Linked DNA regions of Homo sapiens. The protein of the gene in region 2 purifies or fractionates together with the protein of the main gene of each other region. This does not show direct contact. Each region holds a gene or a part of one and is shown on either strand. Other genes may lie near its edges.

Region 1 (7,000 bases), on a different chromosome or scaffold from region 2:
AGTATATCTTATATTAGGCTTTTAAACTGCTTTATGTATCATGTTTCAGTTTTCCTAAATGACTGATACATTTCAGTATTTTGCATATCAGTGTTAATTTTGAGTTGGTAGAGGCAGCCTAACAAACTCTGATTGTTTTGCTATTAGGGGATATTTCCTTCAATAAAACCAATGAATTGAAAGAGAAAATACACCTCACTTTACTGTCCATGTGTTTTCATTTCACAATAAGCCAGTAACTTCATCACCATAGCCATCTTTGGGAATCACTAGTAGACAGAATGATAAGTAGGCAAATTGCTGTTCCTGTTATTTAAGCACAGGGACTATTTGGTTCTTCCTAATGGCGTTCCTGGTATCTGGGCATGGCTCACTGGTCGATTCCTACCTTTTAGTGACTGTAGCCCCCATATATGGCTGGCCCTTGGACAGATCTGTGTTTCACTCTTATATAATTATTTGTTGTAAAATGCAGAAGAAAATTTAAAAAATAGAACCTTTTCATTTTATCCTAGGGGAGAAAAATGCAGTTGTTCAAACTAAGGGTAGAATTAAATCAGGGCCAATACAGTGTTAGCACAGGTGTTATCATTGTGACCAGAAAACAGGAATTCTTGGGGCAGCTTCTGCTTCCCCATTTTGAATCTATTATTGTTATTTAAAATAATTATATTTGTATTTTACTTAAAGATTTAGTTGTTATTTTACTTAAAAGTAGAGTTACCATTGATATACTTGGCATTAGTAAACCCATTGATTCTGATTTGTCAGTCGCTTCTGATTATTGGTTTTGGGGGAGGAAATTAATGATCTAGTAATCAGTTCATTAGCTTGTAAAGCTAATTAACCTCTTCCATATACTGTCAGCCTTACACTGACCCTGCTTTCTCCCCAGGCTGCCTATTCCCAAACTTGAAGACACCATTAGGAGATACCTCAGTGCACAGAAGCCTCTCTTGAATGATGGCCAGTTCAGGTAAACACTGAGAACCTTGGGTGAGCATAGTTGGGGTGGTTCAAGACAGGCTGGCAAGTAGTGGTGGACCAAGCTTCAGGGAATGTCTGTGACGTGGCTGGGTCTCCAGGAACCCAGAACCTAGTTGTACATCTGCAAGTTCAGGAAATAGATTTTCATTCATGAAGGACTGACCAAGCCCCGAGAGTTCCTCTAAACAGGCTCAACAGGAGATAGTTTATAAGCCAGAATGCCAAATGTGTACTTTCCCTTAGCAGGTGTACCTGGGAGGCTCGCTGGTCCTGGTCATTTATAGAGAGCATGTACCCTTGGAAGGGAGGTCCATTGAGGAGACCATACGGCAGACCAGAAGTCTGCATCGTGAGCATGTTTATTGAGTTGGATAGCATGCCTCCAAAATTTATGCCCTTTTTCATGAAATTTAGTATATGATCTTATTTGGAATTAGGGTTGTGGCAGATGTAATTAGTTAAGATGAGGTCCTACTGGAGTATTGTGGGTCCTTAATTAAATATGACTGGTGTCCTTGTAAGAAGACACAGAGACAGCGGTGTGAGGACACAGGCAGAGATTGTGTCCTCTGCCTGTGTCAACAAGCCAAGGCATGCCAGGGATTGCTGGCAACACCAGAATCTAAGAGAAAGCCATGCAACAGATTCTTCCCCAGTCTTCAGAGAAGATATAGTCCTACTGACACCTGGATTTTGTCCTTAAAGCTTCCAGAACTGTGAGAGAATAAATTTCTGTTGTTTTCAGCCACCCAGTTTGTGGTGTTTTGTTATAGCAGTCCTAGGAAGCAAATACAGCATGGAATTGGAAAATAATATCAAATATTGTCAAAAAGTGGATTGCATTAAGCTCTTATAGCCTAGTGTAGTACTCTTTTTCCATAATGGAAATTTTTCTGTACAGGTAACTGGCATTGTTGTTGGAATCACAGAACTCTTCACTGGACAGTGATGGAGAAGCAGATGAATTATCCATAATCTAGGCCTCTGTTTTCAAATATTTGTTATTAGTCATTTAAAGTTTCTCTTGATATGGTAATAGCTACCAGTTATTGAGTATTATGTTTTAGGATATTCTAAATCCTTAGCTTTATAAATATTTTTAATCTTGTAAAGTGGTATTATTATCCATTTTACACATCAAGAAACCGAGACTCAGATCAAGTAACTTATCCAAGATCACACAGTTTGAAAAGCAACAGAGCTAGGATTCAGACTTAACTTCTGTTGACTCCAGAGCTTGTGTCCTTTTCTCCATGCCAAACTGCCTCCTAGGATATGGATTATTTTGTGAGATGTTGATTGATTTTCCTAATCATTCATTTTAAGAAGGTAGTCTAGATTATCAATTTTAGATTGATTCCTGTTCTGGTTAGAGGTACTTTCTGATCTCATTCCAGGTTTTAGGGCTATGCTGTTGGGGACCCAAAACTCTATTATGAGTTCCTCGCCATGAACCTAAAAATCATGTATTCCCTACCATGGTTTGATTTTGTCTTTTCTTGAATGTTTTAGGAAAACAGAACAATTTTGCAAGAGTTTTGAAAATGGGATTGGAAAAGAACTGCATGAGCAGCTGGTTGCTCTGGACAAACAGAATAAACATACAAGCTACATTTCGGGTAGGTAGGCTGGGCTGTGGGTATGATTTCTCCCAGAGCCCTCCATAATGAAAAGTAAGGCATATTCTCTCCTGTTTTGGTCTCAGAGATATTTTTGGTGAGACCAGCAAATGAAGTAACGTCTCATCCTCCCTTCCTGAGGTAAATTAAGGCTGAGTGTGTTCCTCCTCTACTGAGGTGTTGACTTGAGCCCATGCTCAAGAATGATGGCCAGCCTTCTCTGTAGATGGGATTGAGGCAGAACCTAATCAATGGTCCTGTCTGAAAAGGATGCAGGATTAAGTCCTATGTCCTATATCATTCTGGGTCCTTCACTGTCAGACAGAACTGTCCTCTCCAGCCTCTTCTCTCACCACCCACCCTGACATACTTCCTGCTAAACTCCTCATTGCTCCCTGAACCCTTAGTCTTTCATTCTTTTGTGCCTTTATCCATGCTGTTCCCACTACCATTTTTTTGCCTGGCAAATTCTTCTTTTAAGATCCAAGGAGGATGGTTTTCTGTGAAACCTTCTCAGTCCTTTTTCCTTTCCATTCAGAGTTGGTTGCTTCCACCTCTGTTCCTACAGCACTTCTTTTAATTTAGTTTATATATTTACCAAGGTTATACATGCATATAGTTTAAAGAATCAGACAGTTCTATAAGGCTTGTTAGGAAAAACAGCAACTTCCTCATCATCTTATTTCCCACTTCTCACTTTCAGCTCCTAAATCTTTTGTTATATACCCCCGTATCTCTAAATTAGATACTTACCTTACTGCATCTTGATTTTTTTGCTTTAGTCATTAGCTATTGACATCTCACTGTAGAAGATTAGAATTCAGCAGTACTTTACATCCCACCACATATGTGGGATGTGTATACACATACTTCCTATCCCCTTATTTTCACAGCATAGGGATTTGTAATTTTGGGTAACTCAGTATCTAGTTTTATGCTATTATGATCATAGAAACACTATTGTCAGCTGACTCATGTAGCATATTGGGATTGTTTTTCCTTTCCAGTACAAACTTTTTGTTTTCTCTGAAGTTAATAATTGTTCCATCTTTTCTCTTGTTTAGTTTTCTATGTGCTTACTAATTTACCCCCAGACTCTTCCCAAGCTGTCTGAATCTCCTCTCAATACATGAAAGCAGATTGGACATTCTATCCCTTTTGGTCTTCTTGACGAAACTTCTTCCAGAACTTGCGACATGCTGTAGTCTGGATTTGTGAACCTCTTGGCCTACTGTGAAGCTGCTCTCCTGTGCTCTTTCACCATCAGCTGGGGCATCTGTCATCTCTCTCTCATGTTGGGACTCGTGTTTCTTGTCTTTCATATTTTCTTATTTCTTGGCTTTTTCTTTTTCTTTTTTTTTTTTTTTAAATCAGAGCACATATTCCCTGTACTATCTGGAAACAGAATATGGGAAGCAAAAATTTTAAAATGGCCCTTATACTTCATTGATAATTTGTTTGGCTGGGTTTGAAATTATTTTCCCACAGAATTTTGGAGGCTTTGCTCCATTGTCTTTTAGCATCCAGTGTTGCTGTTGGTAAATCTAATGTTATTCTGAGACTTAATCTTTTGACTACTTCTTCTCTCTGCCTTTGGAAGCTTTTTAGAATTTTCTCTTTGTCCCCAGTGTTTTGAAATTTCAGGTAATGTGTTTTAGTATGTGTTGGGCCACTCTGTGAGTCCTTTGAATCTGGAATCTCATCCTTCAGGTCTGGGATATTTCCTTGTTTTATTTCTTTGGCTTTCTTCCTCTCCATTTTTTTTCTCTGTTTTTTCTTTGTGGAACTCTATTATTATTCAGGTGTAGAATTTCTGGGTCTCATCCTCTAATTTTCTTTTCTCTCACATTTTTCATCTCTTACTCTTTTTGTTACATTTTCTTGGGAGACTTACTTAATTTTAATCTCTCAACCTGTTTTTAAAACTCCTGCTTTCCTATTTTTTACTTCCACAAGCTCTTTTTTCTTCTTATGGTGTTCTTTTTAAAAATAGTTTATCTCTGATAATTTTTTTTTAAGATCTCTTCTCTCTTCATAGTCTGTTGCCTCCAAGTTGCTTTTCTTCTGTTTGCTTTGCCCTTTTCTTTCTTCAGATGCTTCATAATCCTGTGTTGTCTTCGATATGAGTGAGATATTAAAAAGCTCTTGGAAGCTATGTGGATGGGGGTGAGGCTTGTCAGTTACAGGCTTTGCTCTAATGTGATTGATATGGTTTGGCTCTATGTCCCCACCCAAATCTCATCTTGAATTGTAATCCCCACGTGTTGAAGGAGGGACCTGGAGGGAGGTGATTGGATCATGGGGGCAGTTTTCCCCATGCTGTTCTCATGATAGTTAGTGGTTTCTCACGAGCTCTGATAGTTAAAAAGTGTTCAGCAGTTCCCCCACTTGTTCGCTTTCTCTCCTGCTGCCACATAAGATGTGCCTTGCTTCCCCTTCACCTTGCGCTGTGATTGTAAGTTTCCTGAGGCCTCCCCAGCCACAAGGAACTGTCAGTCAATTAGACCTCTTTTCTTTATAAATTACCCAGTCTCAGGTGGTTCTTTATAGCAGTGTGAAAATGGACTAATATAGAAAACTGGTACCAGGAGGGGGGCATTGCTACAAAGATACCTGAAAATGTGGAAACAACTTTGGAACTGGTTAATAGGCAGAGGTTGGAACAGTTTGGAGGGGTCAGAAGAAGACAGGAAGATGTCAGACAGTTTGGAACTTCTTAGAGAGTTGAATGGTTTTGACCAAAATGCTGATAGAGATATGGACAATGAAGTCCAGGCTGAGGTGGTCTCAGATGGAGATGAGGAACTTATTGGGAACTGGAGCAAAGGTCACTCTACTGTGCTTTAGCAGAGAGACTGGTGGCATTTTGTCCCTGTCCTAGAGATCTGCAGAACTTTGAACTTGAGAGGGGTGATTTAGGGTGTCTGACAGAAGAAACTTCTAAGCAACAAAGCATTCAAGATGGCTTTTTCTGAAAGCATATGGTCATATGCATTCACAGAGAGATGATGTGAAAGTGGGACTTATGTTTAAAAGGGAAGCAGAGCATAAAAGTTTGGACAATTTGCAGCCTGACCATGCAGTAGAAAAGAAAAACCCATTTTCTGGGGAGAAATTCAAGCCACAAGCTGCAGAAATTTGCATAAGTAATGAGAAGCCAAATGTTAATAGCCAAGACAATGGGGAGAATGTCTTGAGGGCATTTCAGAGATCTTTACAGTAGCCCCTCCCAGCATAGGCCCAGAGGCCTAAGAGGGAAAAATGGTTTCCTGGGCCCTGCTGTTCTGTGCAGCCTCGGGACATGGTGCCCTGTGTCCCAGGCACTCCAGCTCCAGCCATGGCTAAAAGGGGCCAAGGCACAGCTCTGGCCATTGCTTCAGAGGGTGCAAGCCCCAAGCATTGGAGGCTTCCCCATGGTGTTGGGCATGCAGGTGTGCAGAAAACAAGAGTTGAGGTTTGAAAACCTCGTCCGGCCGGGTGCGGTGGCTCACGCCTGTAATCCCAGCACTTTGGGAGGCCAAGGCGGGTGGATCACAAGGTCAGGAGATCGAGACCATCCTGGCTAACATGGTGAAACCCTGTCTGTATTAAAAATACAAAAAAAATTAGCCGGGTGTGGTGGCGTGCACCTGTGTCCCAGCTGCTGGGGAGGCTGAGGCAGGAGAATAGCGTGAACCCAGGAGGCAGAGCTTGCAGTGAGCCAAGATAGCACCACTGCACTCCAGTCTGGGTGACAGAGCAAGACTCCATTTCAAAAAAAAAAAAAAAAAAAAAGAGACAACCTCCTCCTACATTTCAGAGGCTATATGGAAACACCTGGATGTCCAGGCAGAAGTCTGCTGCAGGGGTGAAGCCCTCATGGAGATCCTCTACTAGGGCAATGCAGATGGGAAATATGGGGTTAGAGCCCCCACACAGAGTTCCCAATGGGGAGCCTAGTGGAACTGTGAGAAGAGGGCCACTGCCCTTCAGACCCCAGAATGGTAGATCCACCGACAGTTTGCACCATGTGCCTGGAAAAGCCACAGGCATTCAATGCCAGCCTGTAAAAGCAACCATGGGGCTGTACTCTGCAGAGCCACAGGGGCAGGGCTACCAAAGGCCTTGGGAGCCCACTTCTTACATCAGCATGCCCTGGATGTGAGACATGGAGTCAAAGATTATTTTGGAGCTTTAAGATTTAATGGCTGCCCTGCTGGATTTCAGGCTTGCGTGGGGCCTGTAGCCCCTCTGTTTTGGCCAATTTCTCCCTTTTGGAATGGGAGCATTTACCCAATGCTTGTAACACCAGTGTATCTTGAAAATAACTAATTGGTTTTTGATTTTACAGACTCATAGGCAGAAGGAACTTGCCTTTACTCAGATGAGACTTTGGCTTGTAATTTTGAGTTAAT
Region 2 (7,243 bases):
AAAAAAAAAAAAAAAAAGGAAAAGCAAACTATGTATGAATGAGCCAAATAGAAAATACAGCTATTTTAAGTAAAAATACTTTTTTTTAGTCATTACATTAATTAGATTTCCAAGAGCGCACAGAAGCTGAGCCCTGGAGGAGTTCACTCATTTGATCACTACAATTCACTGAAACAATGAAATAAAATGTACAAGATCCCCCACACCCTGTCAAAACAGATTGAGAATCCTCAAATAACTAGCAGGTCAGCTCATTTTACAACTCGTGATTCACCATCACTGTTAAATTGAACTTTGCTATACTTGCAGAGTTGGAAAAAACACATAAAATGTTATGTAATTTATTTTCTTTAAGACCACGGGCTCTAAAATAAAACAGGCTTGCTTGTGTTTTGCATATGTGCCATTTATATAGACTGGTTCCAGTGCTCTGATTAACCAAGAAAAAATGTGGCTGCCAAAAAGAATCTGCCTTATTGCTGAAACCTGTGTTGTTTCTGTGGAAGGAAGCACACACTCCAAAATACCCCTCTTCAGTTTTCCCTGTTTCTTTATGTCATATTTGACAATATTTTAATAAGTGCAGCTAATGGGACAATATAGGGGAGCAATACCACACAGTGTCCACCCTAACCTTAAGTTTTCAGCTGCCAATCTGTTACATGCACTCAAGGATGAATGGGCATACAACGGGAATAAAACACAACCAAAGGCCACGGTGACAAAAACAAGCAACAAAAAAGATGACAAAATATTTATGTCTTTTGTGATCCTGGCAACTGATTTTCAAATTCACATTCTACCTGAATGACATCAAGTGCGTAGTAACCACTCAAAATTCAGTAAGTAAAAGCAAAAAATAATCAACAGGCTCAAACAGGAATCAGTATTTTTCTGAATCAGCTGTGATAACAGCTATCATTGACTGAAACCTCTAAGCAAACTCCAGACAACTTGACTGCAGAGTGCGGTTCTGAACATGCTCCTCCCCCTTTCAGCTATCTCTTTTAAAAGTGGTAAAGACTCACTCAGCCAATAATCTGCCATATTTCACTCTTGTCCCCCCCAATTCTGCCTGAGCTTAGAAATTTAAAAGTGATGAATTTCACTTCTTCCCACAAAGTTGCACTAAACTCGGCTGTGCCTGCCAGCATCAAAGTGGCCAAGAGCTGGATGTACACTAGCAATCAAGAGCAAAACACAGAATTAAAACGGAATGACTTCTTCGGGTTTCCTCTACGCTCCTCCTCCCCACTCCCAACACATTTACTTTCCGCTTAGTGAATGGCGTGCCACACTCCTGCCCACTTTTACCTTTATCCTTCCCAGACTGGAAAACTTCTCCTTGTCTTCCATCACCACTTTCAGAACAGGCTGGGACATTCTGTTCTTCTTCTTCGAGCTGGTAGGACTGTCAAAATCAAAGCCACTGACCACTGCCCTGCGATAAGACGTGGACCGCAAGCCTCTCCGCAGAGACCCTGGGCTATCCACGTCGTTATCGACCTCACTCTCCTCCCCTGCGTGACCCAGGGGTCCTCCTAGGCCCTCCACCATGCTGCGCACCTTGAGGAGTCTCTTGTGGGGCTCCACATTTTGATTGTTGGATTTACTTATTTTAATTTCCGAGGCCAGACTCTTCGGAATGATCTGCTGCTTCCCCACTTTGAGGGCGGCGGGGCTGTTTGTACTCAAAACCACGGAAGGATTCTCGAGGAGCTCGTTCTCCTGGGAGGGCAGCCTTTGGAGGGGGAGTTTTTGTTCCGAAGAACTTTTCTGGGGCCCAGGAAAGAGCCCCCGTTCGGGGTCCTTTGCCTTCCGGCCGGACTGCGAACCTGACCCAGGAGAGTCGTTATTAGCGGCAAGGCCATTTGCAGTGGGCGAAGGCACCGGGCTGGCAGTCAACCCAGTAAGGTCCTCCTCGGGGGTGCAGGGGGCGGGCGCGTTAGGAGTCCGCGGGGGGCGCAGAACCGGCGGCGGCGGCGGCGCAGGCAAGGTCACCGCGCCATTTGCTGGGGATTTCGGGGAGCCGCCAGGCACCGCTTTGGGGAGCTTGGGTGACTTGGGCCGTCGAAGTCGAGGAGAGGCAGCCCTGTACTCCGGGGATGCCGTCCCACCATTGGCCACCGCTCTCCGCTGGGCGCCCAGAAGCAGGGGGCTCCTATGTACCGTCCTGCTGTCCGAGGCGGTGGGCACCTGGGCGGGAATCTGCGCTGCGAGGAGCGTCCCTCCGTCCTCCACCGGGAAATCCGTAATTAGTAACCCGTTGGGGCTCTGGTAGGACTGGGGCCTCGGCTTGCTCCGGCCCAGAACCTGGTGGGGCTGAGGAATCGACCGCCTCCGCCACAAAGGGGTTATGCTGTTGCTAGAAAAATCCACCTCGCTCTCGCCGTCCATAGCCGGGCCTCGAAGTCAGCGCCGGGAGGAGCAACACCGAGTTAGTCTTGCCTAAAGAGGAAAGAAGTTAGGAAACTGTGCCTCTGGACAACCGGGGACGCCTGGCCGACTCGCGTGCTCCCAGACCGGCGGTCCCCCTGCTGCTGCGCAGGACACGACTGCACCGCACTTACCCGCCCTTTCTCGGGCAAAAACTGCACCACTGCGGTGCGCGGTTCCCGGCAGAAATCTGGGCTGCCGCCCAGGCGGATTAATCCAATCACCTCCGCGTCCCTCCCGCGCCAAAAGACCACCCGCAGCAAATGAGCCCGCCACCCATTCACTGAGTGCAAGCCGAGGCACAAGAAACTTGGGACGAGTTCAGCTTTCTTGGGAAACTCGCCGCGGGACGCTCCCTTCTGTCGCCATCCAGCCTCCCGCCCTCATCATGGGTACCCTCGCGCTCCAGGTGCGCGGCTCCCACGCAAATTTACCTTCTGGGGCTTGCAATGTCCGGGGCCGAGGAGCACCCACTACCCCGTGGGTGGCCCGGGTCCGGGACCGAAGCGCAGCCGCGAGAGCTTAGGAGAGCGCTGCCGCCGACCGCGGCGCCGGCGCCGGCCCGCCCCCACGCCTGACTACGCCCCCACACTTGGCCCCGCCCCCGTTTCGGCCCCGCCCAGATCCGCCTCCATCGCAGCCAGAAGCAAGAAGCTGTCTTCCCGCCCCCGCGTGCCTACAATCAGCCCCAGTCTCCCTGGGAAACCGACGAGCGCACCTGAGCTGGGTTCTGAGCTCCAGCGTTTTGGGGCTAGAAGTTGCGGACTAGTAGCTGAGGCGGCACGGGAGTGTAGGCGCGCGGGGTCGTTGCCGGGGGCACAGAGTGAGAACAAGCAAGGGAGCCCTGCTGAATTGCAGCTTAGGAAGCCCTGAATCCTGGAGGTGCGTTGAAACCGAGAACGCGCGGCGTAGTAGACTTTGTGAGATGCGTGGGCAGTAGCGCAGAGTTCTAACGCAGAGTCATGCCCTCTCAGCATTCAGGTGGTCTTAAATCAGATGGGCTCGTCCCAGTGCTGAAAATGCATTATAATATAAACAGATAGATGGGCTTGTTTGTGCCTAGAGTCTTTCCGTAGGAAAGACTGGCAGCTCTGAAGAGGGAAACTGGGTGGCTAGGAAACCGGAGGGAGGGAGAGTTTTCATATAATTATTTTTGGTCCTTGTATGCTTTGCATCTTGAAACCTATCTGTGAAAAATAAGCTCAATTTACACTACAAAAAAAGTATTGGTTTCCAACAGTACATAGAATAAAACTCAAAATCCTTAGCATGGCTTACAAGACACTTCACTACTGCCCTACTTCTTCAGCCTAGTCTTTCCTCCATCACTTTCTTCATTATTTTTTTGGCCACACTCAAAGTTTGACAGCCTCATAACCTTCCCTTTCGTTCCTTCTTGACCCGACTTGTCACTGCGTCAGAAAGGCCTTCCCTGTCCCCTCCTTAATTATACCATTGCCCCGTTTATTTTCCCAGCCACTTGTTCTCTTCTATTTTTGCACTTATAAAATTTTGTATATATATATATTTATGTGTTTATGTTTATTGTCTTTTGTCTTTACACAGTAATTTGCATGAGGGCAGGGGTCATGTTTTTTTTTCTTCTCCGTATTTCCGGCACATGGTGGGCACTTAATATTTATTTAATGAGTGAGAGAATGAATGACAGGAATGAAGTGAAAACAGTGACCATTCCTTCCAAAGTGCTTGGTTGTCAAATAGTAGAAAGATGGCTGTGTCTTGGCCAGGCTCCTGCTGTGTGACAATAATGAGGCAAACTTGAGAAGACAAATAATTTTAGACCATAAGAGCTGTATAATTGATTCTATTAGCAAGACAAATGGGCCCTTCTCCAAGTTCTCTTTCTGCATTCATGCATTCAGCAGGGATGCAGTGAGCATCCACTGTGTGCAAGTTATGCTGCCTGTTTTTGCCCTAGATTGAATGCAATGGCCAAAAATATTAAGATGTGATCTCTGGGTGGTGAGATGAAGGATAGTATGTTTCATGCTGCTTTATATTTTTCTATACTTAACGAAATATCCTGGACAATGAAGATATATTACTTTGATCTGAGACATTTTCATAAACAAAGAAAAAAAGAAACGGCATCGAAAAATGTATAAGAAACTTTTTTTTTTTTAGACGGAGTTTTGCTCTTGTTGCCCAGGCTGGAGTCCAATGATGCGATCTCGGCTCACCGCAACCTCCGCCTTCAGGGTTCAAGCAATTCTCCTGCCTCAGCCTCCCGAGTAGCTGGGATTACAGGCATGTACCACCACGCGCGGCTAATTTTGTATTTTTAGTAGAGACAGGGTTTCTCCATGTTGGTCAGGGTGGTCTCGAACTCCCAATTTCAGGTGATCCACCCACCTTGGCCTCCCAAAGTGCTGGGAATTGCAGGTGTGAGCCACCGCTCCTGGCCTAAGAAAATTTTTAAGAAAGAAATTTTCCACATTGGGTGGAAGACATGGCTGATTACATACTCACATGTAGGTACATAGACTTTTTTTTTAATATAAGGTGTTTTCTATACCAACATGTATTGCTGTTATATTGGGGAAATATAATAAATTAATTTCAGAAGTGGTTACCGACTGACAAATGGAGTATTCACCTAATTCAAAATGCAACCTGTGACCTATGTTAAGAAGCTGTAAAAGGTGATGTGAGAAGGTGGCTTTTCTTGAAATTATGTTGCTTCTACAAACAAGTATAACCAATATTTGTGACGACTTCATAGGATCTTCTTACCTCATTTCCAACAGACAACAAAATACCTACCAAAACAACAACAAAACACCAAGCTCTGGTCCTTCACTGAGGGAAGTTTACAAACTCACAGACCTAGTGCCTATTCAATTTATTGTTATCTATTCAAATCTAACCTATCTTCAATTATATGTTCCACTCAAAAGAAAGGAAAAGAGCTGCTAATAAAACTATGACAATATGTTATGTCATATCGAATTTTTACTTTATACTTAGTGCTTTTAGACACTTATACATAGATTTGCTTAGTACTGTGTGTATGTAGGAAAGGAAAATATAAGCAAAATGAATTTACCAAAGTCCCGAACATTGAGCCTGATTCTTCTGAATACCTTTTCATGAAAAGCATTCATGTGTGTTTTTCCACACAATATTGTTGATAGTGCACCATTTCTTAAAAGGATGTTCCAATCTTGTTTCTGGGATTTGCCTCCTAGACAATGACACTCATTCTGCAGTTGTGATGCTGGCACTATCCCATTTGACTAAACACATAGTTTTCTTGTTCAACTGAATTGTATGTCACTACAAGCTATGCAGCTTCTCTATTAATGGCCAGGAGAAAGTTTCTCACAAATGGTAGTTTCATGCCTTAACCATAGTCCTGCATGATACATGAATTGGTTATATCAACCTCTCTTTGCTTTAGAATTTCTTTCACCTAATCTGTCATATCTGGTAATTTCTCCTGCCTTCAACTATGTTTCTTGGCATATGGCTTTGACACAACAGGACTAAATTTCATAGAATTTAGTAGAAATGATAACAATTCATTTATGCCCATGTTCAAAAATAGGCAATGCCAACTATATCATCACTATCACCTGGCCACTGGATGTTTATTTGATAGTAAGACACATCCCAGTTTCAAAGAAATTAAAATGTGGTACCAAATTATTCTTAAAATTGAAGAAATACAGTATGTCAAACTATTTGTAATGATATTTTCCGCTGGTATATTCCAATGGTATATTGAACTATTAGAATATTCAATGGTACAACGCAAGATATATATGGCTACATTTACTAAACAAATTCACATTGGTCACAAATTTTGTGTCCCAAGCACAATAATTTGGCTAATTTTTAAATGCAAATTGTTAGCTAGTCTTATTACAATATATGTCCAATTTTCCAGTATTTCCCATCCCGTGTACCTTTTGTTTATTTATACATTCAACAACTATTTATTGGGTGCATTCAAGTGCCAAGCATTAAGACAAACATTCCTGAACCTTACAGTTTGGCTCATGAAACATGACTGAAACATTAAAATAAAAGACACCCAAACTGTGTAAGATGCATAGTAAGCTCTCTGTTCTATGGAAACCTTTGTGAAGGAGTCTGGATAAAACTGGCCCAGAAGGGTAGATAAAGTATTGCAAGGTGGAGAAGCGGACAATGATGTCACAGAAAGATTTCCCAGGATAAGCAAAAACATGGAGGGATGGCTGGAGAACTGATATTCATTAAGTGCCAACTGTATTTTAAGCTTTGTTGTTTGTTACACATAACTTAATCTCACATTAGTTCTGAGCCCACTTAAATATGAAGCTGAAGCCCAAAAAGCTCTTCTCATACTGTTGATAATTGGTTGAGTCAGAATCCTAAACTTTTTCTTTACAATACTCCAGAGCCCATGCATCAAAACATACAAGAAACTAAGCTCACCAAAACACAGTTTGCTTTTAGAAGTTGTGGGATGTTAATTTGGCTGAATATGGTGAGAATAGAATGTGGTATGCAACAGAGACTGAGGGATTGAGATTTTACCTGAATGACAACTAACTACTCTGATATGATTTGGCAGTTTGGCTCTGTGTCCCCATCCAAATCTCATCTCAAATTGTAATCCCCATGTGTTCATGGAGGGAGGTGATTGGGTCATGGGGGCAGTTTCCTCCATGCTGTTCTCATGATAGTGAGTGAGTTCTCATGAGATCTGATGGTTTTATAAGCGTCTAGCATTTCCCCTGCTTGCACTTCTCTCTCTTGCCACCATGTGAAGAAGGTTCTTGCCTCCTCTTCACTTTCT
Region 3 (7,000 bases), on a different chromosome or scaffold from region 2:
AGCCTTATGTACAGTAATTCAGCTTTACCCCATTTGATCTTTACTGCAAGTTGAGGATCAAGTGGTATTTAAAGCATGATGTATCTATTGCCACATCTGTCTAGTGCTGAATCAGGCAATAATGCTTAAACATTTCATTGCTACCAGTTGTTAATGAGGCAAAACATGAGAAAGATGGTTAACTATGCATGCAACCAGTTTCTTAGAGATCATTGTTATTACTATAATCAACCGTTTATATAAAACAGCAAAGTCTTTTTTTCTCATAAAAAAGATACAGTCTGTGGCACTTGTTGTGCCTTTCTTACAAACTGTTTGTTAACTGCCAGTCACTCCCTAGTAGTTAACAATCAATCTGTTACCAATCTAAGTTCAAAACATTGTCAGATGTGTTTATGATTTTGGTCTGTTGCCCATAGCTGGGACTTCCCTCTCATTCTCTGGTTTTTAAAATGGCAGGATGTCAAAGTGTACGGCAAAGGAAACCCCACAAAAGTGGTAGCTGTAGACTGTGGGATTAAAAACAATGTAATCCGCCTGCTAGTAAAGGTAAGTAATTTGTTCATTTCAAAGGTGAGGGTTTGTCATATTGACCATTAGTGTTCAGCTAATTTCCTCTGTCACAGAGAAACTTATGCATTCTTTCAGAATGTCAGGGGTCTACATTCTTCTTGTTGCTTTTGATTTACAAAATAACACATTTATCCCTGTTCAAATTAAAAATATAGACTGCTATGTTTTTTCTTTAAAAAAAAAACCTCAAGGGCCACTAAAACATGGAAGAAAATGATGACTGTTCTTGTCATTAATTGACTGACAGTCTGAGATGCATCATGTTCACTTTCTTTGTGGTATAGAGATGACCAAAAAGCTAGAGTCTGTCTGATAGCATCTCCTTTGGGCTTACATTTATTTTGTACCACACGTTTGTAGGAATCATGCCCTGACAGAGTACGAACTTTCACATTGTTTTTATATCAACTCTTAGACAACCAGTTAAAATTAAACCTTAAAAATTCTCAAGGAGAACTTAACCATCATAATAATGTTTCTTAAATAAAGTTTTGTTAGGATTTTTCCTTCTCCTCACTCCTCTCTCAGTCTGTCTCTGTCTACACATCTCCCCTCCATACACATACACACACATACACACATATTTGCATAACACCAAATTAGCATGCGTATTGGGAGACTCTTCATCGTACCTCCTTATTAGAGAATACCAGCAATATTCAAATCATGATTTCAAATTCTTGTCAATTTTATTAACAAACATTTGCATGGATAGCATGCATGGTAGCAGATGCTGTGGATGGCCTGTGTATATCTCAATCTCAAGTTACCATTTTAATTCATGTTGCCCATCTTCCAATTGCAAATATCTATATCTCTTTGCCTGATGGCTGGAGCCTACTGGCAGGCAGTAAATGGCATAGAATTAATGATCTCTGGAGTAGCCCCCAACCAAAGCACAGAAAAAGCCAGTGTTTAACCACCCTGGCTCCTTTGTCCCATGGATAGGCAGTCTCTAAGGTAACTATTCCACACGGGCTCTCAGAGTTCCCTACTGGGCTTAAACTTCACTTATCCCTAGTGGTAACTACTTGCTAATGCATAATTTATTGGGGTGTTTCATGATGTCACTTCCTCTCTGTTTAGTATGGAAGTACCTTCCAAATAAGCTTTTGTTCTCTTAAATCCTTGTTTCAGGAAATGCTTCATGGGAAACCCTCAAAGACACCTTCCTATGTGCTTTTATATTAAAAGAAATTTCTAAGTTTTCCATTCGAATATAAATCTTACAGAAAATGAGAAAACCCTAGGAAAGAAGGCTGATTAAAATTTGATAAGACTAAAAGGCAAGACTGAAAAAGGTCTGACGTGGGCCAACTTAACATTTTCAGAAAATGGATTTATATCTTTTTGCAACTGGTCGTGTGAAGGTAACCTACTCTCCTGTCAGTCCAGTCATGGCATTTGTAGGCACTGAAACTTCTCTTGAGTGCAGGAGAGTGCATTATCCATTTTTTCAGGATCAAAACTTTTAATGGTGTTTATTTTTATTTTTATTTTTATTTTGAGACAGGGTCTTACTTTGTTGTCCAGCCTAGAGTGCAATGGTGTGATCTTGGCTCGCTGGAACCTGTGACTCCTGGACTCGGGTGATCCTCCCACCTCAGTTTTCTGGGTAGCTGGGACCATACCTGGCTAATTTTTGTTTTATCTTTTTTGGTAGAGATAGGGTTTTGCCCTGTTTCCCAGGCTAGTCTTGACTTCCTGGGCTCAAGCAATTCCCCCCTATCTTGAGCTTCCCTATGTGCTAGGATCACCGGCATGAGCCACCAAGCCCGGCCCCAAAGAAATTTTTGCTCAGCATTATTTATTTTAAATGTTTACAAATTTTTCCTTCCCTTTAAGGAATGGTTAGTCAAGAGAAAGTCTAGCAAAATTATACTTTGGCAAAGAAACATGTTATTAAATTCATCATTCTTGTGTCTCTTTTCCAGCGAGGAGCTGAAGTGCACTTAGTTCCCTGGAACCATGATTTCACCAAGATGGAGTATGATGGGATTTTGATCGCGGGAGGACCGGGGAACCCAGCTCTTGCAGAACCACTAATTCAGAATGTCAGAAAGGTGCAATGAACCTTGAATTCATGTGTATCTGTGTGGGAGGTGGGGGCTTCCGCTCTATACCCTCAAAGGGCTGTGATACATTTTATTTATTCAGGCATTTTTCAATGCTGGTATTTGTGACTTCTGAGGCAGTGTCAGTAGAGATATTCTGTAGGGGAACCAATGAGGAGAGAATATCAGAGAAAATAGGGTTTTTCTTCAGGCAAAGTAACTTGGGGATCATGTCCTTGAGTTAAAAGAACTGGAGTCCAATGGCCAAATGTATTTTGCTTTACAGTTTTAAACCGACAACTCATGGTTCCTTATCATGACCTTGGGACCCATAAGACCTGCAGGTCTCTAAAGAAATATTAAATTAGATTTAGTTTAGTTTGAATGTAAAGTACATCTTAATGAATTATAATGCTACAAATTTGTCAATTATGTCCTTTTTTATATTCTTCTTTAATTCAGTTACTATTCTCTTTACCTTCTTAAGAAAAAAGGATACCTCATTTTTGTTCATTCAGAAGCAACATTTTTTGGAACTGTACTAATTGGTTAATAAAAATTCTCCCTGATTTAGATTTTGGAGAGTGATCGCAAGGAGCCATTGTTTGGAATCAGTACAGGAAACTTAATAACAGGATTGGCTGCTGGTGCCAAAACCTACAAGATGTCCATGGCCAACAGGTGAGGTATTTTCACTTTTGCTTACAGTAAACCAGCTCTGACATACTAACTAAATACAAAGAACTCAGAGCACTTACCTGCCATTTCTTTAGAGTAAATAAATGCACATGTACCCTAAAACTTAAAGTATAATAAAAATAAATAAATAAATAAATAAATAAATAAAATAAAAAATAAAATAAATAACCATACCTTACGTGGTTGACAGTTGTTTGACTACCTGATACCACTTTTGTTGCATTTTTGGAAAGCAGCCTTCTCTAATGATAACCTTGCTATAATTTAAAGTTATTTTCCTTCCCTTGGCATAAATTGAGGTTATAATACTCAATCAAATGATATTCCAAGGGAAATTGTTCTGATTTTAAGCTTGATTTCAGAACATTGTAACATTTTAAGAAGGTAAGTGTGACTTAAGAGCCGAGGAACCTTTAGATCCTCTTGGTTTCTCTTTTTTGCCTCAAACAATATTAATTTATTAAACATCAGGCTTTTTCCCATGGCCCACCCTCTACATAAATTATAATTCAGGTCTGAGCAGTCATCTCTTTGTTATCTCCCTATAACTCTCGGGCTTTAAAATTATTGTAGTTCTCTTAAAGTAAGTCACTTATATTTCTTAGTTTCTGTTAAGCCGGTGAGCAACCCTTTTTGTTATGAGTGCAATGCCCCCCTTTCTAAAACCGATTATAGAATTTAATAGACCTGCGTATTTAACACACAACAAAGCTTCCTGAATTGATTTTTGTTGGGAAAATTACTGGGATTAACAATCTGTGACTTTTCTCACAGAGTGATTTTCACTAAGCAATTGAAATTTTGAATTTTAATAGGCTTTACTTGTTCACTACTTTATAAGGAATACATTTATATTATTCTCTTCACTTTTCCTTTTCCCTATTCTTTTTCTCCTTTTCTCTCCAGAGGGCAGAATCAGCCTGTTTTGAATATCACAAACAAACAGGCTTTCATTACTGCTCAGAATCATGGCTATGCCTTGGACAACACCCTCCCTGCTGGCTGGAAACCACTTTTTGTGAATGTCAACGATCAAACAAATGAGGTAAATGATGTCAATAAACCTGTTCAGTTGGTGATGAGAAACGCAGGGCTTTTAAAAATAATTGATACATAAGCATTGTATATATTTATGAGATACATGTGATATTTTGATACATGCATATCATATGTAATGATCAAATCACACTAGGATAACCATCACCTCATTTTTTATTTCTTTGTATTGAGAACATTTCAAATCTTCTCTTCTAGCTGTTTTGAAATATGCAATAAATTATTCACTCAGAATATTCACCCAGAGTTTTTAAATACACTATGATGCAAATACCTTTCTCCTGTTTGTTTGTGATTTTTTTGGGGTTGAGTGTTGAAAAACAGCTATAGGTTTTCTCCCATAGCCCTCTGTGTTTTAAAACGTCATTTCTCTCTCTTATTCTCTCATCAGTTGACTTGTTAAGATTCACTATTTGAGTTATTAATCAACAACTATCTCATATATTCAATGTTAGTGGGCTGTTGGTCCAAATCTGTTTGAGCCCCATCTGGGTGGGTCTCTGGGACTTACTTGGCACTGGTGTAGTGTTTGAGAAGACCCTTGGAAAAGTAATTTCGGACTTGGGGATAAGATGAGGACTTGAGTTTACTCTGAACAGAACCCAGAGGGGTCCCAAAGACTATAGACCAAATTTTTTATTTATTTATTTATTTTAAAGGAAAACACATTCAGTTGAGTCTTCATTGACCCATTTTCCATACTTAATCAAAAAGGTCAGATATGTAAGTCCTTAAGATATCGGACCATGTTACTTAATAGTACTGTTAGTTACAAAAATTTTGTTAAGCATCTAACTCAGTTTTTAAATTTGAGCTTTATTGTTCCCTGAATAATACATAGCCACACTTGACATTCATTGTTACAGAAGGAATTTCTTCCTGTTTCTTATTCCTTTAGGGGATTATGCATGAGAGCAAACCCTTCTTCGCTGTGCAGTTCCACCCAGAGGTCACCCCGGGGCCAATAGACACTGAGGTACGTCAAAAAGATGAGGCCTATTATGTATGCAAAAAAAAAATGTATTTGTGTGGAAATTCGAGAAACCAAAATAATCACCCCAGATGATCTTGAGCAGAACATTCTCAAGAAGAGTGCTTTGGTAACACACATTTTGTATTAAAATCTCCCCATGAATGTCACAGAGGAAATTTTTATCTTTTTTAAAATTTAAAGTGGGAAAGCCCTTAAGAAACCCGAAGCGATGGTATTTTTATTTAAACCCATTATCATTCTAATATATTTAGTTCTGAAATTTACAATTGTTGTACTATGCAAATGAATTCCCTTTTGCTCTCTCTCGTTCTCATGACTGAAATGAAATTTTAATCCCCCATCTGTGACTTCACAAAAATCCCTATGGCAACTGGTTGTGTAGCCACTAAGGGAGAATAAACAGCAGCAGGAGAAGGAGGGGAAGGGTGTTGGAGGGGAGAGAGGGCATGCATGCACATACATAGATGATTCAGACGGCTTCAGAAAAGAACCACAAGGAATGCTTAGAGGAGTTTTGTATTTAATCTAAATATTTTTACTTTTTTGTGTGTGAGCTCTTAGTTCATTGTTCAAACCCATCTTTCCAAATAAATTCTTCTGGTGATATCCAGAAAAATCTGAAGTCTATTGTGACTTCCCCACACCCAGGGGCCTCCAGTAGCAAATCTTCATTGTCAGAACTCTCAGAAAAGACTTCGAGGTAAAATGGGGAAGAGAATAAGAGCTTTCTTTCTGCAAGCTCTGCTCTACTCTCTCATGTCTGAATTGCCGTTTTAGATATTTATATTTTGTTCTTGTTTTAATATTATTAGGAAATATTGGTTCTTAATAGCCAAAATCAGTATTATATTACCAACCCATGATGAAACTCATAAATCAAATTTAGTTATGTGTATCATCTAACACATGCTAAGTAGTTTTTTAATTTAAAATTTAAATTAGCATATATTAGTACTTCGGATTAGGAACATTGCAATTAAGATGTAATAATATCCACTGTCACATAATTCTCCTTTTTTGTCTTTCCAATAATTGCAAAATGAATATTCTTTGTTGTAATTTGTCATATCTAGTGAAACAACAGAAGTAAATCCTTTGGCAAAGATTAAGAATAATCTTCAGAAACTGTTTTTTAGAGCCGATAGAAATTTAAATTTAAATTAGTATTTCTAATTTTCTATATCATAAGTGATATAGCTTCAATTGTTATATCCACCTAGAATTTGATTTAGAAGAAACAAATGATATACAATTTACTAAAAACTTGGCATTCTCAGAAGGTATCTGATATGTTTACTGCTTGTTGGAAACTTCTTTTTTATAAGACTTGAAGTGAACAGAAGTGTTTATTTGATTAAATTCTCACACTAACAGATATTTAGTTATTGACAAAAAAGCAAAAAAAGCTGAAATGCTATAATAAAAATTATTTGTTGCTTATCTGAAGTTCAAATTTAACTGGGTATATTGTGTTTTATCTGGTGAACTTAGGAATTTTGAAGCTTCTAACTAGTTGGTTGTATTTTTTTCTAGTACCTGTTTGATTCCTTTTTCTCACTGATAAAGAAAGGAAAAGCTACCACCATTACATCAGTCTTACCGAAGCCAGCACTAGTTGCATCTC

What was found.
Region 1: the proteins of ARHGEF26 (region 2) and CPT2 purify together in Homo sapiens (affinity purification with mass spectrometry; 2 studies listed by BioGRID and IntAct, with this or other methods). This does not show direct contact.
Region 3: the proteins of ARHGEF26 (region 2) and CPS1 purify together in Homo sapiens (affinity purification with mass spectrometry; 3 studies listed by BioGRID and IntAct, with this or other methods). This does not show direct contact.

The regions. Positions count from the first base shown.
Region 1 is NC_000001.11:53,199,824-53,206,823, forward strand, and holds part of CPT2 (carnitine O-palmitoyltransferase 2, mitochondrial isoform 1 precursor), read left to right. Parts: intron 1-895; coding exon 896-976; intron 977-2,499; coding exon 2,500-2,606; intron 2,607-7,000. UniProt on the Homo sapiens protein: Involved in the intramitochondrial synthesis of acylcarnitines from accumulated acyl-CoA metabolites.
Region 2 is NC_000003.12:154,117,147-154,124,389, reverse strand, and holds the start of ARHGEF26 (rho guanine nucleotide exchange factor 26), read right to left. Parts: upstream 3,001-7,243; 5' UTR 2,871-3,000; intron 2,449-2,870; 5' UTR 2,398-2,448; coding exon 1,315-2,397; intron 1-1,314. UniProt on the Homo sapiens protein: Activates RhoG GTPase by promoting the exchange of GDP by GTP. Required for the formation of membrane ruffles during macropinocytosis. Required for the formation of cup-like structures during trans-endothelial migration of leukocytes.
Region 3 is NC_000002.12:210,587,599-210,594,598, forward strand, and holds part of CPS1 (carbamoyl-phosphate synthase [ammonia], mitochondrial isoform b precursor), read left to right. Parts: intron 1-459; coding exon 460-549; intron 550-2,507; coding exon 2,508-2,636; intron 2,637-3,201; coding exon 3,202-3,308; intron 3,309-4,232; coding exon 4,233-4,371; intron 4,372-5,280; coding exon 5,281-5,358; intron 5,359-5,756; exon of another isoform or gene 5,757-6,076; intron 6,077-6,909; coding exon 6,910-7,000. UniProt on the Homo sapiens protein: Involved in the urea cycle of ureotelic animals where the enzyme plays an important role in removing excess ammonia from the cell.